Linked DNA regions of Homo sapiens: regions 1, 2, 4, 5 and 6 are each reported to be linked to region 3. Evidence: microRNA targets listed by miRTarBase, many of them from high-throughput screens and not tested one by one. Region 3 holds a microRNA gene; each other region holds the end of a gene's coding sequence. Distances are between the middles of the regions.

What was found. The annotated mature microRNA hsa-miR-506-3p reads UAAGGCACCCUUCUGAGUAGA and lies in region 3 at 2,900-2,920, shown strand. An mRNA with a match to its seed (bases 2 to 7 or 8) in the 3' UTR can be bound and repressed. Matches are read on the target gene's strand: a 7mer-m8 pairs with bases 2 to 8, a 7mer-A1 pairs with bases 2 to 7 and ends in A, and an 8mer does both.
Region 1: the mRNA of ETS1 is a reported target of hsa-miR-506-3p. Seed matches in the 3' UTR shown: 8mer at 2,638-2,645 and 7mer-A1 at 3,357-3,363.
Region 2: miRTarBase lists FSTL3 as a target of hsa-miR-506-3p. Seed matches in the 3' UTR shown: 8mer at 2,475-2,482.
Region 4: the mRNA of SPRTN is a reported target of hsa-miR-506-3p. Seed matches in the 3' UTR shown: 7mer-A1 at 905-911.
Region 5: the mRNA of ZCCHC4 is a reported target of hsa-miR-506-3p. Seed matches in the 3' UTR shown: 7mer-A1 at 1,354-1,360.
Region 6: the mRNA of MAGEA12 is a reported target of hsa-miR-506-3p. Seed matches in the 3' UTR shown: 7mer-A1 at 1,408-1,414.

Annotation. Positions count from the first base shown.
Region 1 is chr11:128,457,831-128,462,905 of GRCh38, reverse strand. ETS1 (ETS proto-oncogene 1, transcription factor) reads left to right here. Exons shown (of 10, transcript NM_001143820.2): 10 at 330-4,141. The coding sequence ends at 545. Among named protein-coding and RNA genes, the nearest start is that of MIR6090, 62 kb to the left of the region's middle.
Region 2 is chr19:680,677-685,751 of GRCh38, reverse strand. It overlaps FSTL3 (follistatin like 3), which reads right to left. Exons shown (of 5, transcript NM_005860.3): 4 at 4,192-4,419; 5 at 2,367-4,102. The coding sequence ends at 4,044. It overlaps PRSS57 (serine protease 57), which reads left to right. Exons shown (of 5, transcript NM_001308209.2): 5 at 1-206. The coding sequence ends at 36. Among named protein-coding and RNA genes, the nearest start is that of FSTL3, 6.8 kb to the right of the region's middle. RefSeq lists enhancers at 3,721-4,269, 4,270-4,819 and silencers at 4,640-4,739, 4,930-5,075.
Region 3 is chrX:147,228,598-147,233,672 of GRCh38, reverse strand. It overlaps MIR506 (microRNA 506), which reads left to right and starts at 2,830; the gene lies at 2,830-2,953. It overlaps MIR507 (microRNA 507), which reads left to right and starts at 2,596; the gene lies at 2,596-2,689. The region is part of intron 2 of LOC105373347 (periphilin-1); the gene reads right to left.
Region 4 is chr1:231,352,659-231,357,733 of GRCh38, forward strand. It overlaps SPRTN (SprT-like N-terminal domain), which reads left to right. Exons shown (of 5, transcript NM_032018.7): 5 at 1-2,365. The coding sequence ends at 703. It overlaps LOC107985360 (a long non-coding RNA gene), which reads left to right and starts at 4,632. Exons shown (of 2, transcript XR_001738520.3): 1 at 4,632-5,075.
Region 5 is chr4:25,368,192-25,373,256 of GRCh38, forward strand. It overlaps ZCCHC4 (zinc finger CCHC-type containing 4), which reads left to right. Exons shown (of 13, transcript NM_024936.3): 13 at 838-2,192. The coding sequence ends at 973. Among named protein-coding and RNA genes, the nearest start is that of ANAPC4, 6.5 kb to the right of the region's middle.
Region 6 is chrX:152,736,158-152,741,232 of GRCh38, forward strand. MAGEA12 (MAGE family member A12) reads left to right here. Exons shown (of 3, transcript NM_001166387.4): 3 at 1-1,512. The coding sequence starts at 5. The coding sequence ends at 949. It also overlaps the pseudogene CSAG4. Among named protein-coding and RNA genes, the nearest start is that of MAGEA12, 4.9 kb to the left of the region's middle.

The DNA.
Region 1 (5,075 bases), not on the chromosome of region 3:
TTTACTAATAATATGCGGAAAGAGGAGAATGTATAGTGTGGCTTTTTGTTTGTTTTTTAAAGTCACATATTTAATCCTAGTTCAGGGTCACTGTGTTTTCATCAACTTAAAGAATCATTGTGACTCCCATCCTTGCCCAACCCATGAAAAATGGAATTCAGGAGATAGGCCCGAAAAATATTTTCTATATCTACATGAATCTCAAATCATCTTACTTGAGCATCATGGGTCACCATGAATGGGTATAGCATAGGCATAGAAACATATATATTTGGCCTGTCTTGTAGATTTTTGCCTACTCCTCCTTTATTTTTCTTTTTAAATTTCAGGTGGCCAGGAGATGGGGAAAGAGGAAAAACAAACCTAAGATGAATTATGAGAAACTGAGCCGTGGCCTACGCTACTATTACGACAAAAACATCATCCACAAGACAGCGGGGAAACGCTACGTGTACCGCTTTGTGTGTGACCTGCAGAGCCTGCTGGGGTACACCCCTGAGGAGCTGCACGCCATGCTGGACGTCAAGCCAGATGCCGACGAGTGATGGCACTGAAGGGGCTGGGGAAACCCTGCTGAGACCTTCCAAGGACAGCCGTGTTGGTTGGACTCTGAATTTTGAATTGTTATTCTATTTTTTATTTTCCAGAACTCATTTTTTACCTTCAGGGGTGGGAGCTAAGTCAGTTGCAGCTGTAATCAATTGTGCGCAGTTGGGAAAGGAAAGCCAGGACTTGTGGGGTGGGTGGGACCAGAAATTCTTGAGCAAATTTTCAGGAGAGGGAGAAGGGCCTTCTCAGAAGCTTGAAGGCTCTGGCTTAACAGAGAAAGAGACTAATGTGTCCAATCATTTTTAAAAATCATCCATGAAAAAGTGTCTTGAGTTGTGGACCCATTAGCAAGTGACATTGTCACATCAGAACTCATGAAACTGATGTAAGGCAATTAATTTGCTTCTGTTTTTAGGTCTGGGAGGGCAAAAAAGAGGTGGGTGGGATGAAACATGTTTTGGGGGGGGATGCACTGAAAATCTGAGAACTATTTACCTATCACTCTAGTTTTGAAGCAAAGATGGACTTCAGTGGGGAGGGGCCAAAACCGTTGTTGTGTTAAAATTTATTTTATTAAATTTTGTGCCAGTATTTTTTTTCTTAAAAATCGTCTTAAGCTCTAAGGTGGTCTCAGTATTGCAATATCATGTAAGTTTGTTTTTATTTGCCGGCTGAGGATTCTGTCACAATGAAAGAAAACTGTTTATATAGACCCCATTGGAAAAGCAAAACGCTCTCACTGAGATCAGGGATCCCAAATTCATGGGACTTATATAAGAAGGACAATTAATGCTGATTTGGGTACAGGGGAATTATGTGTGTGAATGTCATCTACAATTAAAAAAAATTAGCACATCCCTTTACTTACTTGTTATCAGTGGATTCTCGGGGTTTGGACTTAATGTTGAGCTAAGAAGCATTAAGTCTTTGAACTGAATGTATTTTGCATCCCTGGTTTTGGACGACAGTAAACGTAGGAGCACTGTTGAAGTCCTGGAAGGGAGATCGAAGGAGGAAGATTGACTTGGTTCTTTCTTAGTCCTATATCTGTAGCATAGATGACTTGGAATAAAAGCTGTATGCATGGGCATTACCCCTCAGGTCCTAAGAAATAAGTCCTGAATGCATGTCGTTCCAAACTAACACTCTGTAATTTTTCTTTTATGTCTTATTTTCCAAGAGTCCTCCATTTTTTGCACCCCCTCACCGCCAACTCTGTTATTCAGTAGAGAGAAGTGTACGGCTTTCTGATTGGTGAGTGAAAAAGTAACTTGAGACACGACCTAAGTTGAAGAGTTTAGACTTGCTGAGTTTTAGAAGTGATGGAAATTAAGAGAGCATTTCAATAAAATGTGACTTGGCTGTCTTTGGAAGAGAAGTGCAAGGCTTTCCTTTGAAGAATTTAAATTAGTCCGGTAGGATGTCAGGTGAGACTGTGTATGCAAAATGAATGGCACAGGTGATGCCAGGGCCTCTTGCTTGGGTCTGATGTCTTGGCACAGGGTAAGTGAAGGTTAATTCCAGAAGAGAGGAATGACTTGAAGGCAAAGGAAACTAAGGAAGGAGGTTCAGTGAGGAAAATAAGGTTGTCCATGAGATTTGAATAGATTTTTAGTTCCCCCAAGGTTTAAATACAAACATAGTCAAGCAAGGTAGTCATCTTTCTGCTGGTTGTGAGGGGGAATCTGAAAATGGAGTTTTAGAGGAAAAGTCAACATCTAACTAGTGAGGAAAAGTGCCTAATACAATTAGAATCTCCCTCACTCTATAGTTGCCCAGTTGAAAGGATAAGGAGGAGGGGTGGCTTTTATGGACTTCCATGAGAGAAGGAAAGAAATATTTCAGGTAAGCTTCTCAGGGCTGGCCCTTTTTGGGATTTGGATGAGAAATTGGAAGTACTAACTACTTTCTAGCATATCTTTAAGAAAATTGATTGTTATTTACTCCCAGATCCTCTTGCAGACCCAGAATTATCAGGAACATAGCTCTGTGATTCATGAGTGTCCCCATACTGATGAATTGGAGCATCCATATGGAAAGCAAAGGCAGAATTATCCCAGCTGTATTATTTTGATCTTTTGGATGCAGGTGCCTTAATGAAGCTCTCAAAATATTTTAGGAGCTGCTCAGGGAGTGTTGGGTGGAACTGTTTGGACTACATTGTTTTCTCTTAGATTATGTGATTTTTGTTGGGCACTGGCAAAAGGTGTGTGTGTGAATGTGTGCATGTGTGTGAATGTTGTGTGTGTGTGTGTGTGTGTGTGTGTGTGTGTGTGTGTGTGTGTTTGCAGACATGCAAAACTGCAGCTGAAATAATACCTTAGATTTCTAGGTAAGTCTTTCCACATTTCAATAATGGGTAAGAGTAGAACCAGGGCCGGGTATCAATTATTGCTTGCTGTTTGCAACCAGGCATAAAATCACTTTCTCAAATCATCCACCGTTCCTATTAAATTTATGCCGGAAACTCTCCTTCTGTGAGTATAACTCCTGCAGTTCCTATAGCAGATAAGATATAAGAAAGTGCCTCCTAGTGCTCCTCCGCCCGCTTGTTTGCTAAAATTCCCTTTCTCTCTAAGTCCACCATTTTCAAGATTTGTAGATAGTGTATTAGTTAAGACAGCTTTGTCGATCTGGCCAGATGTTTTTTCTCCTTTGTCCAAAGGCCAGAGACCATCCCAGGAAGAGTGGTGGGTGGTTTATACACTGGAAATGTTGCGTTTATGCTTTTTAAAAACACACGTTAACTTCAGAGGAAGGATGGGCAAATCTGGTCTAGCTGGGTGAAACCCTTATTTTCCCAGAGATGCCTTAACCTTTGTTGGTTTTGGCTTTAGGGTTCAGAGTCACTTTTGTTCCCTTCTCCATTCTGGAGAGGGACTTCCCCTACATAGAGCCCTGATTTTTGTGGCTGTGGGGATTGGAGGTAGCATTCAAAGATCAGATGTGCTTTTCCTCACTTTGGAGATGAACACTCTGGGTTTTACAGCATTAACCTGCCTAACCTTCATGGTGAGAAATACACCATCTCTCTTCTAGTCATGCTGTGCATGCCGCTTACTCTGTTGGGGTCTATATAAATTTGTTGAACTCTTACCTACATTCCAAAGAAGTTTCAAGGAACCATAAATATATGTATACATATACATATATAAAATATATATATTAAAATAAAATTATCAGGAATACTGCCTCAGTTATTGAACTTTTTTTTTTAAGAATACTTTTTTTTTAAGCTGAGAAGTATAGGGATGAAAAAGATGTTATATTGTGTTTGACTATTTTCCAACTTGTATTTTCATATAATTTATATTTTTTAAAAGCTGAAAATTTAGAAGCAAGATGAAAAAAAGGAAAAGCAGGTGCTTTTTAAAAATCAGAACTGAGGTAGCTTAGAGATGTAGCGATGTAAGTGTCGATGTTTTTTTAAAAAAAAATGCAAAAAAATTCTTATGGCGGAGTTTTTTGTTTGTTTATTTTAGTAGCTGATGCTGGCACATCATTTTGCTGGAGAGTTTTTTATATACTGTAGCCTGATTTCATATTGTATTTTAAACTGTGTGAAATTAAAAACAAAGAATTTCATTCATAATGCTGTGGCTTTGGCTTGATTCTTTCTTGTCTGGATCATGTATTAAAGCAGGACAAATCAACCAACCAGAGGCAAGCACAGAGGGATGCAGTTTAGTCTTTCTGATCTCACTAGCTCAGGACCATTGGAGATAAAGATTTCCTAATAAGGTGAGAAATATAACAGGAATATAGGGAAGTCATCGAACATCCCAATCTTTGAATATATTGTGTCATCCTTTGTGGAATGTCCCTGGCCTTGTCAGACCTCACTTCTTCATGTCCGAAGGACTAAGAGCCATGTGAAGGAAACGTTTAATGACTCAACAGATAAACATTTGATTTCAGCTACGTACCGTTCCTGATATGAATACAGAAAGTTGAACATCTTTAGTGGATCCTGTGGGAAATGAACAGTATTCTTGTGTCCACCACTGATACTAATTTTGCTCTATGGCAATTTGGGCCCTTCACATCCATCTCCTTGGCCCCAACTCTTTCACTGGGGCTGAAGATTGGGAATAATAATATCTGTCAGAACCCCTAGCAACACATGCCATAAATAAAATCATGTTTATAAGTGCTTTGGAGGGGAGTGCTTAGGAACACCTCATGCATGGTGCTTTTTCCTTGTTGCTGAAACTGTAGAAGGTGGATGTTTTTAATTAACACCAACATTTGCAACATGAATCCCAGCTCACAGCTGGAAAGAGAATTTTTGCTGAATTGTTCACAAAGAGAGCTCTGTTTTTGGAAAATCTGTTTCTTCAGGCCTGGAGCTTGAGGTTTGCTGAGTACATGTTAAGCACGGACTGTGTGGTCTGGTGGTCAGGGAGCAGGACTGGCCGCGAAGAAGGCTTCAGCCCCTCAATCCTGGTCAAGCCACCACCACTCACTGGGAGACTTTGGGAAAAATGGCTTCAGGTCCTTATATTTTGTTTTTAGTTTTCAGCTGC
Region 2 (5,075 bases), not on the chromosome of region 3:
CCTGGGACCACCAGGCCCCCAGGAGAAGCCGCCTGAGCCACAACCTTGCGGCATGCAAATGAGATGGCCGCTCCAGGCCTGGAATGTTCCGTGGCTGGGCCCCACGGGAAGCCTGATGTTCAGGGTTGGGGTGGGACGGGCAGCGGTGGGGCACACCCATTCCACATGCAAAGGGCAGAAGCAAACCCAGTAAAATGTTAACTGACTTCCAGCCTCACCCGTGGGCGGTCAGCTGCAGGGTCCACCGGCATTCGTGTCGCGGCTCGGTCCGCAGCCCCTTTCCACCTTCCCATGCCCCCCACCGTGAACCCCTCTGGGTCTACCCCTGCGCCCCTGCAACCCACACTCCTGCAGCCTCCCACCTGGAATGCCGTTCCTCCACCTCCCTCCAGCCGCCTAACCACACCGCAGGCGAGTCCGCTGGGAAACGGAGGCCAGGAAGCCCTGAGCTCCCTGTGCAGGGCGTGGGGGCTGCTGGACACCAGGGCGGGCTTGCACCGGCCGCGCCGAGGAGTCCCAAGAGGGTCTGGCCACACATCAAGCCTCGTGGTCATCCTCTGAAAACCAGAGAATAGCGCGGGGTGCACAGCAAGTCCCAGGTGATGTTATTGTCACAGTTTGTTATTGTGTTATTATTTTTTTATTTTTAGATTTTATTTTCTTTATTATTATTTTATTTTTTTATCTTTACTTATTTTTATTTTGGATGGAGTCTCGCTCTGTCCCCCAGGCTGGAGTGCAGTGGTGCGATCTCGGCTCACTGCAAGTTCCGCCTCCCGGGTTCACACCATTCTCCCGCTTCAGCCTCCCAAGTAGCTGGGACTACAGGCGCCCGCCACCACACCCGGCTAATTCTTTGTATTTTTAGTAGAAACGGGGTTTCACCGTGTCAGCCAGGATGGTCTCGATCTCCTGATCTCGTGATCCACCCACCTCGGCCTCCCAGAGTGCTGGGATTACAGGCGTGAGCCACCGCGCCCGGCCTATTATTTTTTTAAGATGACGTCTCACTCTGTCACCAGGCTGGAGTGCAGTGGCGCAATCTCGGCTCATTGCAACCTCTGCCCCTGGGTTCAAGCCATTCTCCTGCCTCAGCCTCCCAACTAGCTGGGACTACAGGCATGTACCACCACACCCGGCTAATTTTTTGTATTTTTAGTAGAGATGGGGTTTCACCATGTTGGCCAGGATGGTCTCGATCTCTTGACCTCGTGATCCGCTAGCCTTGGCCTCCTAAAGTGCTGGGATTACAGGCGCGGGTGAGCCACCGCGCTGGGCCTTTTTGTTGTTGTTGTTGTTATTATTATTATTATTATTATTATTTTGAGACAGAGTCTCACTCCGTCACCCAGGCTGGAGTCCAGTGGTGCGATCTCGGCTCACTGCAACCTCTGCCTCCCAGGTTCAAGCGATTCTCCTGCCTCACCCTCCCAAGTAGCTGGGACTACAGGTGCATGACACCACACCTGGCTAATTTTTTTTTTTTTTTTTTTGAGATGGGGTCTTGCTCTGTCCCCCAGGCTGGAGTTTAGTGGCACGATCTCGGCTCACCGAGATTGGAGTTTCACCATGTTGGCCAGGTCGGTCTCGAACTCCTGACCTCATGATTCACCTGCCTCGGCCTCCCAAAGTGCTGGGATTACAGGCATGAACCACCACGCCCGGCCAATTATGCTATTATTATTATTTTAGAAACAGTCTCACTCTGTCACCCAGGCTGGAGTGCAGTGGTGCCAACACAGCTCACTGCAGCCTTGACATCCTGGGCTCAAGCCATCTTCCCACCTCCGCCTCCTGAGTAGCTGGGACCACAGGAGCATGCCACCATGCCTGGGTCTTTTTTTTTTTTTTTTTTTTTTTTGTAGAGATGAGGGTCTCACTATGTTGCCCAGGCTGGTCTGGAACTCCTGGCCTCAAGTGACCCGCCCGCCTTGGCCTCCCAAAGCGCCGAGATTATAGGGGTGAGCTACCCCACCCGGGCCCTAATCCTGTTATTTTTATTACTGCTATCGTTACACCCAAGTCATTCAAGACCGGGCCTCCATTTCTGGGTCCCAAGCCAGCTGGTGTCTTAGGGCTGCCCTAAGCCATCTTGTCTATCCTGTGTGCCCTCCCAAAAGACCTCCTTTCTCTCCCTCCCCTCCCGCTCTGCCTCAGCCCCTCCCGGGCTTGTCCACTGCCTGGAGAGGCACTGAGGCCCAGAGGCGGCCAGAGGCTGCCCAAGGACTAATGCTGGGTCTCTCTTCCCGTGCCTCCAGAGCACCCATGCGGCACCCCAGGCCCCAGGCTGCCCATCCCACAGCCGTGGGGGCGGCCTGAAGCCTTGAGAGAGGAGACAAACTGAGGCCTGGACACCCCAAAATGGCTTGAGTCTTTATTTCCTTGGTGAGGCAGGGCCCCAGGGTGGGGTGGGCTGCCTGGCTGAGGCTCCTGTAGACCCACCAACCTAGGGGCACTTTTCTGGGCACCACAGGTAAGGCACTGCCTGGGGGCTGGAGGAGGCTGGAGGAGGATGCCCAAGCTCCCCACATTCCTCACCCCAGACCGGGGAAGCTGGATATCCTCCGTGTTGTCCTCTCCCCATAGCTGGTCTGAGGCTGTGGTTTACACGCAGGCACAGGTAGGCGATTCTGAGCATCAACGCAGATGGAGGGGAGGGTGAGCCGTCGTGGGAGAACTGGCCCAAGACCAGCACCTGGCTGGTGTCGCCAGCCCCGGCTGCATTGGTGGGTGAGGCAGGTCTGGCTGGAGTCTGGGTCTGCAGGCCTGGCCGGGGCAGGTTGTGGGGGACCAAGGAGCCCTGGGTGTGAACCCCACTGTGGAGGCAGCAGGCACCTAGTGGTGCCACTGGGACACCCGGCTCCAGGACTCCGGATGTCACACATGCGTGAGTCTTGGCGTCTACACCCCCCTCGGGGCCAGTGGGTGAGCAGTGGCCCGTGGTCCCCGCCAGAGCTCCCCCAGAGTGGACTTGGCTCCGCCGGACACAGTGCCCTGCTCTGAGCTGCCGCTGGCTGCTCCACGTCTGAGACCACGCGACGTTGCCTCATGAACTGACGTGGACAGCAGCAGGGGAGACGCTGGGTGGTTCTGTGGCCAAGCACAGCCCGTGTCAGGAGCACAGGCCGTGCCCTTTCCCAGGGGGCACACTGGGCATTTCTCAATGGCCTTCACAGGACGCAAAGGGGCACACAGAGGCAGTGGGGAAGCTGGAGTTCTTGGGCTGGCAGGGAATGGTGGCAGCCTTCTTGGCCTTCATGAAGGGCCTGGCTTGCTGGGCTAAGGTCACAGTGTTCTGAGGTCCCCACACGCACTCAGACTAGACCCTCCGTACACACCCAGGCTAGACCCTCCATACTCACCCAGGCTAGACCCTCCATACACACCCAGGCTAGACCCTCCATACTCACCCAGGCTAGACCCTCCATACACACCCAGGCTAGACCCTCCATACTCACCCAGGCTAGACCCTCCATACTCACCCAGGCTAGATCCTCCATACACACCCAGGCTAGACCCTCCGTACTCACCCAGGCTAGACCCTCCGTACTCACCCAGGCTAGACCCTCCGTACTCACCCAGGCTAGACCCTCCGTACACACCCAGGCTAGACCCTCCGTACACACCCAGACTAGAGGCTTGGGGCTGAGAAAAGCAGTCATGCCTCTTCAGGAATTACCAGCAGAGAATGCCCAGCCCTCTTGATAGTAGCAATAATTAATAGGTTTATCCCCAAAGGAGCGGAAGTGTGGAATCCTCCCCGGCAATAGGTCTTAGGGTAGGGGCTGGGGCATCCTAGAGAAGGGCCCTAAATCAGGCGCTCAGTGTCCGGAACGCAGGTCTATCCCACCCACCAGCCGGCCCCCAGGCCTCCCTTCCTCAGTCCTTCCAGGATATCGTCAGGGAGGTTCTGGGATCCCCAAGTGGTCCGAATCCGGGCTCTAAGGAGTGTCCGTGGCATATAAATTAGACTCTGCTGTGGCAATAAATAACAGGGGATGATGGGGGGCCTCGGGCACCAGGCCCAGGCCTGTCCTGCAGGCTCACACGAAGTTCTCTTCCTCTTCTGCAGACTCACCACCTGGCGGCTCCTCAGGGGTGCCTGCAAGGGTCGATAAGAGCATTGAGGGCGCAGGGCAGGGGGTTCTCCGGCCCCCAGGACAGGCCTGTGCCCCCGCCCTGCGTCTGCACCTGCGCAGCTGCCCGCGTGGCGCACGCCGATGGAGCGGCCCAGGAAGCAGGTGGCCTGGCGCATGTGGCACGAGGAGATGTAGGTGACGTTGTTGTTGCCGCAAAGCTCCTGGCCGGGGCTGGAGGGCACAGGGCAGGGCGCCGCTCGACACACCACGCAGTGGGCGCTGCCCGTCTGGTCCACGACGCACGACTGTGGCCGCGGGCACACCACGTGCTCACAGGACTCTGCAGGCCGGGTGCCAGGGGAAGTTCAGGGGACATCTCGCTGAGAACCCCGCAGGGCTCTTGGCCCCAAGACCCACCCTTAACCCCCAAGATGCGAAAACCCTCTGGTAGGAGACACAAGCACCCCCCCGCCCCCCGTGAGCCCCCCTCTCCATTCCACCCCTCAGGCTCCACCCACAAGCCCTGCCCTTCCCATTGTACCCAGGAGCCACACCTCTTTCGTGAGCTCCTGCCCCTTATGCTACCCAAAGCCCCGCCCCTCCGCGACTGCGGGGCCGCCCACCCAAACTCCACCCACAAATCCCCGCCCATCTCCACCCAGGAACCACGCCCCAGCCAAGAGCCCCGCCCCTTACATGACCCAGTCTCACCCCCCTGGTTCCATCATGCCCCTCTGGTTACACCCACAAGCCCCTCTCTGAGTCACGCTCCCGCTCTGACCATGCCACATACCTCTTGCCCAGTGTGAGCCCCCAGAGGCCCACTATTTTCCAAATCCCAACCCTACAAAAGACCCTACCCCGTGATACTCCCTCGGAAGTATAAAGACGCCCTTACTCAGGCCCCACCGCCACCCATGTGACCTGTCCTGGGCTGGAGGCCCCGCCCCTACGCACTGCGGCAGCGGCCCCGCCCCTCCAGCAGGCCCCGCCCCT
Region 3 (5,075 bases):
CTAATTTTTGTATTCTTAGTAGAGACGAGATTTCACCATGTTGGCCAGGCTGGTCTCAAACTCCTGACCTCAACTGAACCTCCCACCTCAGCCTCCCAAAGCGCTGGAATTACAGGCATGAACCACGGTGCCTGGCCAAAATTTTTTATTAAAATGGAATCATACTGTATATACTGTTTATTTTGGCCTAGCTTATTTCTCCTGGCATAATTATTTTGAAATTCGTCCACATTGTTATTTGCATCAATAATTTATTTGTTTTTATGGATGAGTAGTATTCCACTGTATGGATATTCCAGTTTTTTTTAAATGCATTCACCTGTTAATGGCCATTTGTCTCCAGTTTATAGCTATTTTGGCTTTGACTACTAGAAAAGACGTAGCTATGAACCTTGATATAAAAATATCTGTATGGAGAGGCAGAAGGAGAGAAGGAGAAAGAGAGGGGAGGGGAAGAGGAGAAAGGGGAGAAGGGAGAGGGTGGAAGAGGGAGAGAGAAGGAGAAGGGGAGGGAGGGGGAGGAGAAAGTAGAGGGGGAGGGAGAACCAATTCCTGGAGCCCACAGGAAGCACGACCTGGGAAGCAAGGTGTAAATGTTACATGTCCATATCAGAGGATGGGATAGAATTTGATAGTCTGCTGCTACATTATCTCCCAGGAAAGCTCTTTCAAATCATGTCTTTCTTGGTGTCTAGTTGGCAACTGATGATGTGTGTGGATTTTGTTTTTGCAGTGGCCAAATACCTCACTTCACCCAAAGTCATGAGGAAATACAGGCTGTAGTGAAGAGGTGGGAAACTGTTCTACTTTGTTTTCTATCATTGTTTATTATGATACCTCATCTGTTTACTTCTCAGTGTCCACTGCTCTCCTTCCTACACTCGCAGCATTTCTCAGTGCAGTGTCGTCTATCCCTGATACGTGCTAGATTTCCTTTGAACTTCGTTCTCTGTTTTGTTTGGGATTATTGGAAAGTAAAGTTACATTTTAGTGTATTTGTTTTTATGTTTTGGGGGTTTTTGTATTGTGTATGTTCTTTTTGATTTTTGTTATTGTATTGCTTGTTTGCTTTTTTAGGGTTTTTGTTTCCTGTAGAATTTTGTATATTTGGATGTGTTTTGTATATTTTGTGTGTTTTTTTTTATTCCGATTTTGAATGGTGTTTTTAAATGTGTGTTAATTAGAATTTTCAGTAGTATTTTTACATTCTTAAAAATTGTTACTCCCGGCTGGGCACGGTGGCTCATGCCTGTAATCCCAGCACTTTGGGAGGCCGAGGCCAGTGGATCTCCTGAGGCCAGGAGTTCAAGACCAGCCTGGTCAACACGGTGAAACCCTGCTTCTACAGAAAATACAGAAAATTAGCTGGGTCTGGTGGCACATGCCTGTAATCCCAGCTACGTGGGAGGCTGAGGCAGGAGAATCGCTTGAACCCAGGAGGCGGAGGTTGCAGTGAGCTGAGATTGTGCCATTGCCCTCCAGCCTGGGCAACAAAAGCAAAACTCTGTCTCAAAAAAAAAATTGTTACTCCTTTATTGTTTTTTTAGTTGACACATAATAATTTGTAAATATTGATGAGATATAGTGAGATGTTTTGATACATACATGCATTGTGTAATAATCAAATCAGGGATTTAGTATTTTCATTACCTCAAACGTCCATCACTTCTTTGTGGGAAGAACATTCAAAACCCTCTCTTCTAGTGATTTTGGAATATACCATAAAATATTGTTAACTAACTATAATCAATCACTCTTCTGCACAATAACACATCAGAACTTTTAGCCCTCCTAACTGTGACTCTGTACCCATAAACCAATTTTTCCCCAACCCCCCTTTCCCTTCCCTTCCCCAGACTCTGGTAACCATCATTCTACTCTCTACTCCTATGAGATCAACTTTCTTAGACTCTGCGTATGAGTCAGATCATGCAGTGTTTGTCTTTGTGTTTGCATTGCCCTATTTTGTGAGCATTCGTTTTGGGGTTGTTTGTTTCATTGTTCACATGTTTATTTGCATGTGTGGCATGCATGTGTTCACATGTGTTGCAGATATTTCTTGGTCTAAACACTGGTTTGCAAGTGCATGACTGTGGTGACTACTGCTTCTGCTGCTGTAGGCCTTCATCTCTGAACAGAGGATGCCAAACCAAGGCCCCAATGATATAAAGAAGATTCAAATTGGAAAGAAGAGAACTCTCCAGCACTGCTTCAACTGAGCTCTATCTGGCCTGCAATCGCTAGATATGATGAGTCACTTGAGTGGTCCTTTCTATGTAATGACTGGCTTTTGAGGCATATGAAGTAGTTGTTCATGTGCCAACTATATTAAATTGAAAATTAGCAGAACAATTTAGTGAAGTATGCTAAGTCTGGGAGGAAGAGGGAAAATTTTCTCTCTCCTAAAATCTGTCTCATTAAATGTGCAGCAGGTGAAGTAATTAATAAGCATTCAGTGAAAGACATAGGAGACAAAAGGGAGAGGAAAAAGGGTTTGTTTTTTTTTTAATCTATTGACTATATTCTGCTTATTCCTAGTGGACTGAGAGTGTTGGGATTCTGACTGAAATGGCGGAGTGAGGGACATTTTCCGCTGTGCTGTGTGTAGTGCTTCACTTCAAGAAGTGCCATGCATGTGTCTAGAAATATGTTTTGCACCTTTTGGAGTGAAATAATGCACAACAGATACAAGTCAGAACTACCCACTCAGTGATGGGTCAACTCATACAACCCTTTAAAGAGAATTCTGTGGGGTAAAACCTAGAGGATGAGGTTCTCTGGGAATAGCCTCATCTGTAGTTTCCCCGTGTTACTATTAAGATGGTCAGTGCCACCACCATCAGCCATACTATGTGTAGTGCCTTATTCAGGAAGGTGTTACTTAATAGATTAATATTTGTAAGGCACCCTTCTGAGTAGAGTAATGTGCAACATGGACAACATTTGTGGTGGCATTGGTAATGACGAGTGGAATTTCAGTGACAATACTGCCCTCCCTTGAGCCTTGGTACCCAACCTTTAGTGATGAGCCATTTCCAGGTACTCTCTGAAGTACCTCTTGAGAGATCTGCTCCAGAATCTGAGGGTGCCTGGGAAAAGTCTCTCATGTAGGTTTTTCAATTATTTATTGCTTTTTCTCCACAAAATGACTGACTACACTGGAAACAAGATTTGAGGTAGGAACATGATACTTCTTTTTCTCTTGTACCTCTTAGTCTTTTCTCTCTATAACAACCCAAATACACTTCTTGCCTTATAAACCCCTGAGAAGTTTACACTGATCTTCTTTCCTCACAATATTTAAGCCTTCTTTTTAGGGAGCACAAATATCCTCCTGCCCTTCCCTGCTGAACTCCAAACTCCATGAACCATCTTTCTTATGAAGTGATCTCCTCAAGGCTTAGATACACTCAAATTCCCTTTAATATTCCTGTGTATCCGTGATGATAATCTCATATCAGTGGAGTTTGATATGATACCCCAAATTTGCTTTCATTTGAACTATTTATATGTTTTTAGCTGGTCTTAACTATTATGGGAACGGATGAAGTGATGAGAACATATATGTATGAACATGTGTGTACATATACTTCTGGAAACTTTACATATACAAAGGGGTTTATATATCCCTTTATATATATATATATATATATATATATATATATATATACACACACACACACACACACACACACATACATATGACATTCACAGAAAAAGGAAAAGGATGCAGAAAAAGGATCATGTTCCTACCTCAAATCTTGTTCCCAGTGTTTTGTAGTCCTTTTGTGGAGAAAAAGGAATAAATGCTTAAAAAACCTACAGGACATACTTTTCACAGGTACCCCAGGCACCCTCAGATTCTGGATCAGGTCTTATAAGACCTTCAAAGAAACACCCAGGACAATGATTGAGCAAATATATATGTATATAATTATTATAGAAGTCTATTTTTAAAATAAATCCCTTAAGATATTTATTATAAGGATACTGCAAGGAATAACCTCAGGCAACTATGGAGGCTGGTGAGTTCCTAGATCTGCAGGGGGATGGGTCAGCAAGCTGGGGACCCAGGAGAACTGATGGTATAGTTGCAGTCCAAGTCCAGAGGCCAAAGAAGCAGTAGAACAAACCATTTTGTAGTTCCAGTCCAAAGGCCAGCAGGTTTGAGACCCAGGAAGAGCTAATGTTTTAATTTGAGTACAATGCCAGAAAAAAATGAGATGCCCCAGTTTGGAGGCAGTCAGGCAGGAGGAATTCTCTCTAACTTAGGGGAGAGTCAGCCTTTTTGTTCCATTTAAACCTTCATCTGATTGGTGCAGGCCCATCCATCCACATTAGGGAGGGTGGTCTGCTTTACTCATTCTACTGATTTAAATGCTAATGTCATCCAAAAAGACCTTCACAGAAACACCCAGAATAATGACTGACCAAATGTCTGGGCACTCCATGACCCAGTCAGGTTGAAATATAGAATTAATCATCACAAGTTCACTCCTTGTCATGTTGTCACTTATACGCATCTCCTTAAATTATATTTAATCATCAAATGAGAAAAATACCAAGGTCATAATTTCATTTAATAAGATACAACTACCATTTATACAACCCAGAATTCATGAACCACTTCACCAGAAGAGGAGATAAAGTCCTGGAGTGTTGTTTGTTTACTCTTCTCCTTGGTGTTCCATAACATCAATACTATGATTATTTAAAGTTAACAACGGTTAATAACTATGATATAATATCAGTACACCTTACGTTACATGATAAGGGGATAAGAGAGACAAGAAAACACAGAAGTATATTAATAAAAATATAAGTAGAAAATACTCATGGGAACTACAATTCTCATTTCTGTAACTGTCATCTGGTGTTAGCTGGTATTTACAACTACTTTTCTTCACTACCCATTTTGTATTCCCTTTGCCTTCAGCAAGCACCTCAGCCATTATATTTTACCTGGTAGAGTGACCCAAACTTTCATTTCTGAAGGGTCTGGGCCATTAGTAGTCCTGCCAGGATTGGGTTGTTGTAGTTTTCTACTGACCTTAATCACAAGGCATAGTAATACT
Region 4 (5,075 bases), not on the chromosome of region 3:
AGGATATGTTCTAGGAGAAACAAGCAATTTACCTTCACCTGGGAAACTGATCACTTCACATGCCATTAATAAAACCCAAGATCTTTTAAATCAAAACCATTCAGCAAATGCTGTAAGACCTAATTCTAAAATCAAGGTGAAATTTGAACAGAATGGTTCAAGTAAAAATTCTCATCTGGTCTCCCCTGCTGTTAGTAACAGTCACCAAAATGTTCTAAGCAACTACTTTCCTAGAGTATCATTTGCCAACCAAAAGGCTTTCAGAGGTGTGAATGGATCTCCAAGGATAAGTGTAACAGTTGGCAACATCCCTAAAAACTCAGTCTCTTCTAGTTCTCAGAGAAGGGTTTCATCTTCTAAGATATCCCTAAGAAATTCTTCAAAAGTAACGGAATCAGCATCTGTGATGCCATCCCAGGATGTGAGTGGGTCTGAAGATACATTCCCAAATAAACGACCTAGGCTAGAAGATAAGACTGTTTTTGACAATTTTTTTATCAAGAAAGAGCAAATAAAAAGCAGTGGTAATGATCCAAAGTATAGTACAACCACAGCTCAGAATTCCAGCAGTTCATCCAGTCAGAGCAAAATGGTTAATTGCCCAGTTTGTCAGAATGAAGTTCTGGAGTCTCAGATTAATGAGCACTTGGACTGGTGCCTTGAAGGTGACAGCATCAAAGTCAAAAGCGAAGAAAGTCTTTGAAAAAGGTTTCAAAGTCTCAAGTACCACCTGTATTATCTCACTAATGTGCTATGTCAGCCAGTCAGGAAGTTCTGGTTAATACTAAGATTTGTAGGTTATAATCTAGTTCACATAACCAATAGAAAGTGTCCTATTTTATATATACGCATATAAGATTGTAATTTTAAGATGTTTTGTGTCTCAGGGTGCTACATTCACTCTTGCCTTAGGTATACTGTAACCCAGGTTCTGCCTGTCGTGTATAAGTTTTAGATACTTTTGTTCTTTCTTGCTCTTAAGGATTTTAAAAACCTGTTAATCTTTTTATTTGTATACTTTCCTAAAAATATTCATATGGGGAATCCTGTCAGGTGTTTGGTTATATTGACTATTTATTAATAGTATTAGAACTCATTCCCTGAACTGATGTAAATCTTCATAGTGTCAGACATACTGACCAAAACCACAATCTAGACTACAAAGTATATTGTTTTAGAGTACTCAAATTGTATTATTTATTAATTTTTTTGTTTGCAAAATCTTAACAGGAACTGTATTTTCTATATTTTAAAGAATTTTATTTGTCCCACTTTTACTAAACAGTGGCAGCAGATTTTAAGTTAAAGAATATGGAATATAGTAAAATAAGTAAATTTCTTTTGGAATATTTTTAGTAACAAATAGCCACTATAATTCTGTAGGCCAAATTTTATATTGAGTTTAGCTGTTTTCTCAAAATTTAGCAGAGTGGTTAAAATTCTGTGCTGATAAGTAACTGATACATATAACATAAACATAACAAAGTTGCCTAGTTGATGTAACAGTGGAAAGTTATCTGGAAATAGTATTTTGAACTTTAAGCCAAGTTTAAAACATTATAATAAAAGGAATACCATTTGTGCATTTTAAGTAATCTTTTTTAAAAAAAATATTTTCCATGTTATAGGGAAAGGACAAAGAGACTTTTATCAGTTTGCTTTTTGTCTTGTGGCTGTACATGCTGTTGGCATAGCCCTAACACAGTTGTTCACAAGTTTTCTTTTTTCTTGTTGCAATTTTCCTTCACTTTGTTGTAATACAGGTGCACAAATCTTAAGTGCACAGCTGGGTAAACTTTTACAGTGTTCACCTGTGTAACTACCACCCGGATCAAGTTAGAGAACACTTCCATTGCCACAGAAGGCTTCCTATAGGTGTCTGTTCCCAGTTGATACCCATGACCCTCACCACCTCCAGAGGTCCCCACTGTTTTCACCCCATCGTCGCAGATTATTTTTTAATTTTATAATGTAGTATCTTTGTTCCTATGTATAGCAGGAGTTCATTTTCATTGCTCTTGCATTTGTATGAATATACTAGAATTTATTCATCCATTCTAATGTTAATGGACATTTGAATTATTTCCAGTTTGGGGCTGTTAAGCATAATGCTGCTAAGAACATTCTTATCTTTTCTGTTGGGTATATATACAGGAATGGAATTGCTGAGTCACGGGGTATATTTCTGTTTAGCTTTAGTAAATTCTGCCAGTTTACACTCCTACCAGCAATGTATGAGAGTTTTAGTTGTTCACCATTCATAACACTGTTAGCAGCCCTTTTCGTTTTAGACTGGTTGGCTGTTCACAAATTTTGATATTCCTTAAAGCATTAAAACATTTTAATAAATACTTATAAATAGGTATTAAAATGTATATTATGTTCAATATATAGTTATATTTTCATAGAGGATCATTTCTCTAAATGAATGTAACAAATTATGTGTAATTAAATGCTTCCTGAGCCAAAACCACACAAGGTTCTGGGGCTGTGAAGTAGCTGAGATGGTCCATGTCCTCAAGGAGCTTTACAGCATAGTTGGGGAGTAAGACAAATGCACATTAATCTCCTTAGAGTTTGCTAAGTGCTATGACAAGGGTTTTTGCTGGGTGCTGTGGGTAAACTGTAGGAAGAAAAATTAGCTCTGCCCAGGACTTCGGGGGATGTTTCTTGGAGGAGACAACATCCAAAGTTGAATCATGTAGAGTGAGTCGAGTTAGCCTGGTTAAAGAAGGGTGGGGAAGAACCTTTCAAAGGGAAGAAGGAACACAAAGTCATGTTCCGAGGGAACTGAATGCTATTCCAAGTGAATAGAGTAAAATGTGAGGGGCAAAATGGCCAAAGGAGAGATGGCAGATAGGACAGATCTAGCTAAGTAGTACAAGTTTGAGGCCAGGGATCTCATGTTCCTCACTTTATGTCTGGTTTGTGTGATACCTGCTAATAAGCATCTCTTAATTAAGGTGGGGCTTGGAAAGGCTTATAAGCCAGTCGAGGACATGTTGAGAAGTGTTTCCAATGGATTTTTCTGGGGACAGCATAGATAAGAGGGGGAAGGGTAGTGGCAGGGAGGGAGAGGAAGAGACAATTTTTTGAGAAACAGGTAGTAAAGTCAGGAGTTGGTTTCAGGTTCTAGGGAATGATGGAAATAGTTGAGAAAATGGAACTCAATTTGAAATAAGCCTTACTACATCTGTTAAACACTTGAGAAAATTTGCACCCTAAAAATTCTGATATTCCCCCAAATATGTCATTCATAATAGAGACATAGTTTTGTTTCTGTTTAGATTTTCCCTTTTAAAGCCAACTTCCCAACTTAGAAGCAGAGCTGGTAATTCTGGCTCAATCCTTAAATGCTATCCCCCTGCTGTGGGGACATGGGGTCTAGATTCTGTTTTTATAAAACGGTGGGTTTTGGGTTTTTGTTTTGTTTTTTGAGATGGAATCTTGCTCTGTGGCCCAGGCTGGAGTGCAGTGGCACAATCTCGGCTCACTGCAACCTCCGCCTCCGGGGTTCAAGCAATTCTCCTGCCTCAGCCTCCCAAGTAGCTGGGATTAAAGGCGAGCGCCACCACACCTGGCTAATTTTTGTATTTTTAGTAGAGATGGGGGTTTCACCTTGTTGGCCAGACTGGTCTCAAACTCCTAACCTCAAGTGATCTGTCTGCCCTCGGTCTCCCAAAGTGCTGGGATTACAGGCGTGAGCCACCATGCCCTGCGAAAACAGTGTTTATTTTAAGGTCAGTGTTATATGTTACCTAGCCTTAATTTTTACTTTAGAAAATTGTGCTGGGCAGCCGGGCGTGGTGGCTTACGCCTGTAATCCCAGCACTTTGGGAGGCCGAGGTGGGCGGATCACGAGGTCAAGAGATCGAGACCATCCTGGCCAACGTGGTGAAACCCCGTCTCTACTAAAAATACAAAAAATTAGCCGGGCGTGGTGGCAAGTGCCTGTAATTCCAGCTACTCGGGAGGCTGAGACAGAAGAATCGCTTGAAGCTGGGTAGCGGAGGTTGCAGTGAGCCGAGATTGTGCCATTGCACTCCAGCCTGGGCAAAAAGAGCGAAACTGTGCCAAAAAAAAAAAAAAATTGCACTGGGCATGGTGGCTCACGCCTGTAATCCCAGTACTTTGGGAGGCTGAGGTGGGTGGATTACGTGAGATCGGAAGTTTGAGACCAGCCTGGCCAACATGGTGAAACCCCGTCTTTACTAAAAATACAAAAATTAGCCAGGTGTGGTGGCATGCACCTGTAATCCCAGTTACTCAGGAGGCTGAGGCAGGAGAATCGTTTGAACCCAGGAGGCAGAGGTTGCAGTGAGCTGAGACTGCACCACTGCACTCCAACCTGAGTGACAGAGTGAGACTCTGTCTCAAACAACAACAACAACAACAACAAAAAGCTGGGCATGGAGGCTCACGCCTGTAATCCCAGCACTTTGGGAGGCCGAGGCGGGCAGATCACGAGATCAAGAGATCGAGACCATCCTGGCCCACATGGTGAAACCCCATCTCTACTAAAAATAAAAAAATTAGCTACTCAGGAGGCTGAGGCAGGAGAATTGCTTGAACCCAGGAGGCGGAGGTTGCAGTGAGCCGAGATTATGCCATTGCACTCCAGCCTGGCGACAGAGCTAGACTCCGTCTCAAAAAAAAAAAAAAAAAAGAAAATTTTGTTTTGCTTTTTGTAGACTATGGATATGCATATGCATATCCTAACTGGGAATTCTAAAGTGGAAAGGAAAATACTATGACAAAACTTCATACTGTCCCATTGTCTGATAGCTCTGAGATCATACTTTTAAAGCTTACAGGACTTTAAAATACGAACGTCAAAGTGAAACAACTGATGTACCTGCAAAACTAGCACCTAGCTGGACCCTTTCTGGGTGCGTGCAGTGTCAGCTCTTTTTATGTTGTGTTTTAAGTTTTTTATCCTGGTATTGCATTAATCGTGATCCAATGGTTTCCTTTTATTCTTCGTCTCAATTTTTTTTTTGTCCTTAAGGCTACTGTGGACTTTTTAGCAATTTGTTGTAGTTGTTGACTATCGGCATATTCACCAACAGAAGTGA
Region 5 (5,065 bases), not on the chromosome of region 3:
AGGTGAACCTAACAATTGATATTGCTGGGTAATCAGGGGAGGAGTCCTGGTTTGGCATTGTTGTAGCTCTGGCCCCTTCCTTGGTTCTCAATATGTTGAGTGTCATGGCATGATTCTGCTAGCTTGGAGAAGTGAATGGATGGGCCAGTCATTTTCTCAGCTGCAGGTCGCCTGTAACTTAGTGTGGAGAACACCAGAAACAAAGAATCTGTTTTGTCTGGTGTGGTTCAGTGTTTTCAGAGGGTGAGTTCCAGCTTGTTTATTTTGAAGCTAATCTTCAAGATAAGGACCACAAAATGCTGATAACCCTGCGTGGCACTTGTCAGGACTTTTAGATCCGCTGAGGAAAGGAAAATCTGTACGACTTAGGAAACAGGCCCTTTCAAGGCTTCTCGGTTTTTTCCATTGTGCTGTTTCATTTTTCTGTCTCTGCTGACTGCCCCATGTATCAGCTCCTCTCCAAAAAAAACGGAATTCAAGGATTTGGAGATTGAAGTGCTGAGTTGAGCAATACAGATGTACAAAAAACTTTTTTAAAAAGTCCAATCTCACTAGCTTTGCATTTACCTCTGTGGTGTGTTTGCCCCGGACAGCTTGTTCTAAATCCATAGTAACCATCTTTTAAAGAATTTTTTTTTCTCAAACATTTTGCTTGGTTAGGCCTCTGACTCTTCCCTTGTTGTTATGGTTAGGAGACTGAGGATTTATGCTTGCAATACAGTAGATTCTTTCCCTTCTTCTATTTTCTTATTTGGTTAGCTAGTTAATTAAACTTCAACATAATTACATAATTCACTGTGCTCATTCTGTGAAATAATTTAGCACCTTGTTTTCCAGAGCTGTCAGAAAGCAGAAGCAAAGAAAAAGTAATAAGATGAAAATGGAGACCACGAAAGGACAATCCATGAATCATACATCTGCTACAAGGAGAAAGAAAAGGAGGGAAAGAGCCCATCAATATCTTGGCTCTTAAATGTCCAGTGACTGGAGAATAAGAAAGATTTATGGTCCAACCTTTGATGCCATTTTCTGAAAGTGCCACACTGGACTTAAATTCAGCTGCTTCCAGAGGTGTGCACCTTTCTGAGCTAGATAACAGGCAGGTGGCATTTGCTGGTTTACAGTCCCTTATCTGCCTCTCTGGAGACATGGGGAGTTGTTCCATCTTCAGCCAGTTTACTAGTTCTTTCAGCATTCATTTTTCCTCACTTTAAGTCTCTCCCAGTCACATTGTTCTATTTTTATGTTTTCATTTTTTTTGAGATGGAGTCTTGCTCTGTCTCCCAGGCTAGAGTGCAATGGCACAACCTCAGCTCACTGCAACCTCTGCCTCCCGGGTTCAAGCAATTCTCCTGCCTTAGCCTCCTGAGTAGCTGGAATTATAGGCACATGCCACCACGACTGGCTAATTTTTGTATTTTTAGTAGAGACGGGGTTTCACCATGTTGGCCAGGCTGGTCTCGAACTCCTGGCCTCAAGTGATTTGCCTGCCTTGGCCTCCCAAAGTGCTGGGATTACAGGCATGAGCCACCTCACCCAGCTCCGGTCACATTATTCTAGCCTTTTTATCCAAAAAATGGGCAGACCATTCTTTTGCAGAAGATGTCAGAAGAAAATGAAAGTGAAAACCTATGCAGTTTGTTTACCGTGAACATAAAAGTATGTTAATTTAAATAGGAAAATATTTTATGTTAAATATGAAACAATAGTTTAAACCCCACTTGAAAAGTATAGCGTACAATTATTTTTAGACTGAATTTGAAGATGATGGAAAGGGTTTTTACAAAGGCACTGTTTAGATATACAGATTATAATTATAATTACATTATTATTAAATATTTATTCTTCAAGTACTTTTTGCAGTTGTCCTCTGACGGTCTAGAATCACTTAAATGCTTGTTGAATGAGTGAGATGTTTAGAACTACGACTTGCTCTGTCATTCCAGTGTCGTTTAACCTATGCAGTAAGATTCTGTCTTTGTAAAAGTAGTTCGTAGCAGAAGCCAGGATAGTTTGGTAATTAAACGCCCAAACTAAACTCCTCATTCCTACCCTTAATATTTCCTGGCTGTATGATCTTGGCCAGGTCACTCTCTAAAAGCCCCGGTTTCTTCATTATTATCATTATTATAATGGGGAGAATAACAGCTATACCTGAGGTTTGTTTTGTGATTAAATTAAATGAGACCCAAGTGCTTGGCTCTCAGTTCTCCTCTGTCATTGGTGTGTTAGGTTAACAATGAAGATTGTTACTGGGTCTAATGGTAATTACCTTTTGGCCTGATAACAAAGCATTGAAGGCAGTAATTTGAACTCCCAGAACAAACAGTTCATCTCCCCGTTTCTGTGCTAGTTATTGTCTCCTTAAGACTGAATTGTTTTGAATGACTTATATTTGCATAATGACTTTTCTCTTGTTTCCAAACAACTGCTGTAGAGCAGATTTGAAGGCATCTTTGTTTGGGGTTAGGCAGAGCCCTGTAAGTAAGGGTGGAGGAACTGCACTCTATCTGGTATTTAAATTCCAGGTAAGTTAGGACTGATGCCTGGTGTAGAATGCTCAAGTGTGGCCCAGATCAGTGTGGCAGTGGTGTACATCAGTTGATGTCAAAAGATGAGTTATACCCCTGGACTTCATAAGCATCAGAAAGCTCTTCTCCCTTTTGTTACATGGAGGGCTATGATAGGAGGGGCACATTTGGAGGTGACTGGGTGAGATATGAAGTTTGTAAAACCGTTGTGAGAGTTCCCCTCTCTGATTCAAGCAAGGATAGGGACATTGCCTGACTTTATGGTGTTCACCATTCCATGATAAAATCTATTGAAATCTCCTCTGAAACTAAGACACCTGAGGGACTATGACTACTGAAAAATTGAGTTCTGAAGGCCAACAGTTATTCTCATCACTATATTGCCTTAATGTTAAGATACCATCAATTATAAAATACATCATTGATTTTATCATAGCTTTTCAGGGGGAGAAGAGAAATAATACTTCATTAATTAATTTTTAGATCATCTGATTTCAGAAATACTGAAATGCAAAAAAAAAAAAAATCTTAGAATTGAGGAAATAGTTATAATCAGGAATAATGTACTTATTTATTTTGAGACAGAGTCTTGCTTTGTTGGACAGGCTGGAATGCAGTGGTGGGATCTCTGCTCACCGCAACCTCTGCCTCCTGGGTTCAAGTGATTCTTGTGCCTCAGCCTCCCTGGTAGCTGGGATTATGGGTGTGTGCCACCACACCCGGCTAATTTTTATATTTTTGTAGAGACTGGGTTTCGCCATGTTGGCCAGGCGAGTCTCAAACTCCTCATCTCAGGTGATCTGCCCGCCTCAGCTTCCCAAAGTGCTGGGATTACAGACGTGAGCCACCACACCCAGCCAGGAATAATGTACTTTAAAACTTTATTACTGTCTTAGAAAGTTAAAAATAGGAAATTTGGTGATTTTACACTTATATTCAATTAATACTAATTTTAAGGACTTAATCTCTATTCCTTTTTCAGAGAATAAACTAATTGGTAGCCTGTAAAAATGTGTCTCTGGGAGGTAGAATGTGAAGCGGGATGAGGTCATTTGTTCTTAATAGAAATCTGAACATCTTAACATTAAGATACCTTCTCAAAATAGCAATAGAAGAAAATCCCTAAAATTTGACAGATAACATTTTCTAAGCTTTTTAAAAGGACATTTTTAATAAATACAGCTAAATTTCATTCTTCTTATATTATGAAATTTAATGAGAAACAAAGTCTTTTTGTAGGCTGGATTTCATGTTTTTTCCTAATTAGTCCAGTACCTAGACTAGTTTATCACTCCATATGCCCCATTCTTTTCATCCGATACTGTTCTTTCTGCTTGGAATATGTCCCTCCATGTGGCCACTCCGTTCTCTTTTGGGAATCTTCCACGAGTCCCTGATACTGAAACCTTCTTTGGCCCCTTGGTGTTTGATACCACATTTAAGGCCTTTCACATATTATTCTGTGATTATTTTTACTGATTTTATTTCCCTCAAAGATTTAGGTCTCTTAATGTCAGCACCCATTTCATCTGCTCTTGTGTATCTTGTGCCTTTTTGGTGCTCAATAAAAATTTGATGTAAGCATGGAATTTTCTAGAGGCTTTGAAGTGGTAGGCATGCCTGAAATACGGACTGGACCCACTCTATTATGTTTCTTCTAGGGACTGAAAAGGGAAACAGATTTGTATTAGGAGGCACTTAGAGTCAATATGAGGACCACCCTAACTGAAGTTTTAAATGTGGGGATGTGCTGCGTGAAGATTAGTAGCCTTGTAGCAGGATGAGCCGTGGACAAAACCCCACAGACACCAAGATAGTGAAGGAAGTAGCTTTTAATCAGTTGGAAGCATCGACAGTCTAGTGTCTTAAAATCCGAGTTTGTTGAGTGCACAATTTCTGTCCCTTTTAAGGGCTCACAACACTAAAGATTTTACATGACAGGGCCGTGATCGATTGAGCAATCTAGGGGGTATGTGACAGGGGCTGCATGCACCGGTAATCAGAGTGAAACAACAGAACGAGAAGTTTCACAATGTCCTTCCATACAATGTCTGGAATCTACGGATAACATCGGTTGCTAGGTCATGGGTTGAATTTTAACTATCAGGCTAAGGTCAGGCAGGCCCAGGCCTGGTTTTGGGTCTGGTGCCTGGCACCCGGCTGCCTGCCTTTGGTTTTGCTTCCTTGTTTCTTAAAACAGGTACTGAGCATAAAACAATATAGAACAATACGGGGGGGGATCTCTTTCTCTCTTCTCTCAGCTTTATCTGCAAGACCCCTTCAAAGTAATCTGCAAAATACTAGGCATCTGGGAGAAGTTTGACTAATCTTGAAATATAAAATCACAACCTACAAAGGGTCCTGGTCAGCTGCCACTGCCTTCACAATGTCCCTGTTGGTCTCTCCACTGGAGTAGTACATCTGTTGCCAGAGAAATAAAAATGTCAGTTTGTGTGTTGTTTTTATACTTCTTTTATGGTACTTAAATCATGCCTTGTATAAGAATGACTTTATATACTTGTTTAGCCCTGTAC
Region 6 (5,075 bases), 5.5 Mb from region 3:
CATCATGCCACTTGAGCAGAGGAGTCAGCACTGCAAGCCTGAGGAAGGCCTTGAGGCCCAAGGAGAGGCCCTGGGCTTGGTGGGTGCGCAGGCTCCTGCTACTGAGGAGCAGGAGACTGCCTCCTCCTCCTCTACTCTAGTGGAAGTCACCCTGCGGGAGGTGCCTGCTGCCGAGTCACCAAGTCCTCCCCACAGTCCTCAGGGAGCCTCCACCCTCCCCACTACCATCAACTATACTCTCTGGAGTCAATCCGATGAGGGCTCCAGCAACGAAGAACAGGAAGGGCCAAGCACCTTTCCTGACCTGGAGACGAGCTTCCAAGTAGCACTCAGTAGGAAGATGGCTGAGTTGGTTCATTTTCTGCTCCTCAAGTATCGAGCCAGGGAGCCATTCACAAAGGCAGAAATGCTGGGGAGTGTCATCAGAAATTTCCAGGACTTCTTTCCTGTGATCTTCAGCAAAGCCTCCGAGTACTTGCAGCTGGTCTTTGGCATCGAGGTGGTGGAAGTGGTCCGCATCGGCCACTTGTACATCCTTGTCACCTGCCTGGGCCTCTCCTACGATGGCCTGCTGGGCGACAATCAGATCGTGCCCAAGACAGGCCTCCTGATAATCGTCCTGGCCATAATCGCAAAAGAGGGCGACTGTGCCCCTGAGGAGAAAATCTGGGAGGAGCTGAGTGTGTTGGAGGCATCTGATGGGAGGGAGGACAGTGTCTTTGCGCATCCCAGGAAGCTGCTCACCCAAGATTTGGTGCAGGAAAACTACCTGGAGTACCGGCAGGTCCCCGGCAGTGATCCTGCATGCTACGAGTTCCTGTGGGGTCCAAGGGCCCTCGTTGAAACCAGCTATGTGAAAGTCCTGCACCATTTGCTAAAGATCAGTGGAGGACCTCACATTTCCTACCCACCCCTGCATGAATGGGCTTTTAGAGAGGGGGAAGAGTGAGTCTGAGCACGAGTTGCAGCCAGGGCCAGTGGGAGGGGGTCTGGGCCAGTGCACCTTCCAAGGCCCCATCCATTAGTTTCCACTGCCTCGTGTGACATGAGGCCCATTCTTCACTCTTTGAAGAGAGCAGTCAGTATTGTTAGTAGTGAGTTTCTGTTCTATTGGATGACTTTGAGATTTATCTTTGTTTCCTGTTGGAATTGTTCAAATGTTCCTTTTAACGGATGGTTGAATGAACTTCAGCATCCAAGTTTATGAATGACAGTAGTCACACATAGTGCTGTTTATATAGTTTAGGAGTAAGAGTGTTGTTTTTTATTCAGATTGGGAAATCCATTCCATTTTGTGAATTGTGACAAATAACAGCAGTGGAAAAAGTATGTGCTTAGAATTGTGAAAGAATTAGCAGTAAAATACATGAGATAAAGACCTCAAGAAGTTAAAAGATACTTAATTCTTGCCTTATACCTCACTCTATTCTGTAAATTTGAAAAAAAAGCATGGATACCTGGATATCCTTGGCTTCTTTGAGAATTTAAGAGAAATTAAATCTGAATAAATAATTCTTCCTGTTCACTGGCTCATTTATTTTCCATTCACTCAGCATCTGCTCTGTGGAAGGCTCTGCGTTAGTAGTGCGGATGCTAAGGTAAGCAAGACTCACGCCTACCCGTAGGGTTGTAGAGCCTAGGACCTGCAGTCATATAATTAAGGTGGCAAGAAGTCCTGTAAGATGTAGAGGAAATATAAGAGAAGGGTGAGGGTGTGGGGTTCCAGGAGGGAGTTGTGGAGTGTAAATGCCCTGAGCTGGGGCATTTTGGACTTTGGGAACCTGCAGTTCCTTCTGAAGGAGCTGACTCTGATGAAGCTGGGTGGGTCCAGGGCCCACAGATTCTCAGTGAATGAGAGAAAAGCCTGGAATGGAAAGCAACTCTGAGTAGTTTATTTCGGATGGGGGATGAACAGAGAGGAATCTCCACCTGGGGCTGGAATAGAAGGTGTCCTGTGCTTTTGTCCCACTGCTATTGAACACAACCCAAGATCTAGGTGATGAAAATCTATCATCTGCAAGGGTTTCCTGAGCGATAAGGCTGAATTTCCCAGGAAGGGTGACCCAGAAGCCACTGGCCAGGTGCTTTTCTGCCAGGCAGGGAGAGCCAGAGCTGACTCCATTAAAAAGGCATTCTAACTAGGTTATCTCAAGTGCAATTTGACCAATTGTAGGCGTGGGCCAGATTTTGGATGGTAACAAAATGGATGAAAATAGTGGTTTGGGTGGGAAAGCAGCTGGGAGAGATGGAAGGAATTGGTCTTTGACACACATTCTAGGAGTTTTGGGTTGCACCTGGCTGGGCAAAACTCCCGCACACACAAAGTTTGAAGTGCATTCTCTAAGAGGAAATACTTAACTGAATTTTACAGGTGAAGCTTCCTTTTTGGCCTAATTATCCCATGTCCTGTTGAGCTGTATATTTTCTGATGACTCCTGGAGAACAACGACAACAACAACAAAGTCCCAGAGTGTTAATGCCTAGGCTTTAAAAATATTAGAAATAACAGCCATCGGCCATTTGTTAAACTTCTAATTTCCACCACGCCCGGAGTTTCTGTTGCTCCACATCTTCACTGGCAATTGGTCTTGGTTTTGTTTTGCTTTTTTATGGGTTTTAGACATTCTAATAGGTGTGTAGTAGTATCTCACTTTAGTACACAATTATCTAATGCCAAAGGACACTCAGTATTTTATTATGCTTATTTGCCCTGTGTGTATCTTCTTTTGTGTAGATTGTGTTCAGATCTTTGACTATTTTCATTTTTTCTATCATTGAGCTTTAAGAATTCGTATATATTGTAGAGACAAGTTCTTTATCACATATGTGTACCACAGATTTTTTCTGCTAGACTGTGGCTTGTTTTCATTCTCTTAACATTGTCCTTTGAAGAGCATAAAATTTTTATTTTAATAAAATCAACTTGGCAAATTTTTCTTTCCTTGATCATGCTTTTGGTGTTGAATTTAAAAACTCATCACCAAACTCAAAGTTATGTGGATTTTCTCTTACGTTTTCTTTTAGAGGTTGTATAGTTCTTGTATTTTTCATCAGGTCTATGATGTATTGAGTTAATTTTCGTGCAATATGTAAGGATATGTCTAGGTTATTATAATTTGTGTATAGGTGTCTAATTGTTCAGGCACCTTTTGTTGGAAAACCTGTACTTTCACCATTATTGCCTTTGTTGTGAATCACCTGACTATGTGTGTGCAGGTCTATTTCTGAGCTCTATTCTGTTTTATTAATCTATGTGTCTATTCTTTGCTAATGCTTATGTCCTCCACCAAATTCATATTTTGAAACCCTCAGCCCCAGGGTGTCAGTATTTGGAGATGAGGCTTCTAAGGTAGTAATTAATGTTAAAAGAGGCCATAAGGGTGGGAGCTTGATCCCACAGAATTAGTGTGATTGTAAGAAGGGAGAAGAAACAGAAGAAAGTACTTTTGTGCCTGCATGACTTCTCTCTCTCTCTCTCTTTCTTTCTCTCTCTCTCTTCCTCTCTCTCTCTCTGCACATACACAGAGGAAAGGCCAAGAACTGACAAATTAATAAAGGGCCATCTACAAGCCAGGAATAAGGCCATCACCAGAAGACAACCCCGCCAGTCCTTGATCTGGGACTTCCACATTTCAAAACTGAAAAAAGATAAATTTCTGTTGTTTCAGCTACTCAGTCAATGGCATTTTGTTATGGCAGCCTAAGCTAAGACATAACCTCAGGTAACACAATTTTTTTTGTTTTGTCCTAGAAAAAAAAAGCAATGTAATTGTGACATATAAAGTCTGTGGCTCATTTTGAGTTACATTTTTGTATGGTGCAAGATATGTGCAACGGCTAGTATTATGTGTCAACTTGTCTAGGCTATACTGCTCAGCTGTGTGGTCAAACAGTAGTCTAGATGTTGCTGTGAAGGTATTTTGTAGATGTGATCAACATTTACAATCAGTTGACTTTAAGTAAAGCAGTTTAACTTCCATAATGTGGATAGGCCTCATCCAATTAGTTGAAGGTGTTAAGAGAAAAGACCAAGGTTTCCTGGAAAAGGAATTCTACCACAAGACTAACATAAAAATGCGCTGTGAGTTTCTAGCCTGCTGGCCTGCCTTCACTGTCCTGGGGGAGGCATGGAGAGACCAGGTGGACTGGAGTAGACTGTTGAGAGACACTGGTCTGGTGAAGATGTCCAGGAAACCACGAGCCTCCAGCCCATTGTCCAACAACCACCCACCAACACCAAAGAGGTGAGGAAGTGGAAAGCATCCTCTCAACCCTAGCCCAGAAGCCCTATCAAAGTGAACGGCCCACCGAAGCTCTAAATCCTACCCTGTCCTCCCCTGGCACAACCCCCACCCCACCCTGCCCCATTTCTCTATGAAGCCCCTGTTCTCACCCCTTCTCCATCCTCTTCCCCAAACCAGTGCCCTTCTTTGATCTCCTGGTTGGTTTTCCAGGTTGCCAAGACAACCTGGAAGGGAACAGGGACCCGTCAAGGAAGTTCCAGGAACAAAAGGCTCTCCCTAAAAGACCACCGCTTCAAAAAAACCTGAGGAATGGAGTGGGCCAACACTATCCAGCCACTCCGACCAGCCAAAAGAACTCAATCAAAATGAGACACAGTAGGACCACAAGGGCAAGGAGACCACCACCTTCTCCAGTCTCTCTTTGGGCAGCCAGTAATTCCCGGGCAAGGCCAGAAACCTCAAGGCTACCTGAAAAGTCTCCAGAGGTCTAACCCCAGAAAAATAGCCAACAGGGTGTAGAGTACATTTTATACCCCAAAGGGTATACCCCATGGTGACGAAAATAAAATGAACATGTTGTAAAATGATGTGTGTGTCTGTGTGTCTCAAATGGTAGGGGTAGGGAGTAAGGGGGAAGAGGTGGGAGTGTGAGAAGGGAGGGAGGTGGGATCTTCTACAATTTCTTTAAATTCAACTTGCTCTTCGTTCTTTGGTTTCCTAGAGTGAAAGTTATGGTTATTGATTTTAGATTTCATTTTCTAATATAAACATTTAAAATATGCTATATATTTCCCTCAAGGACACACTTTAGCAGAATCCCACTTTTTGTAT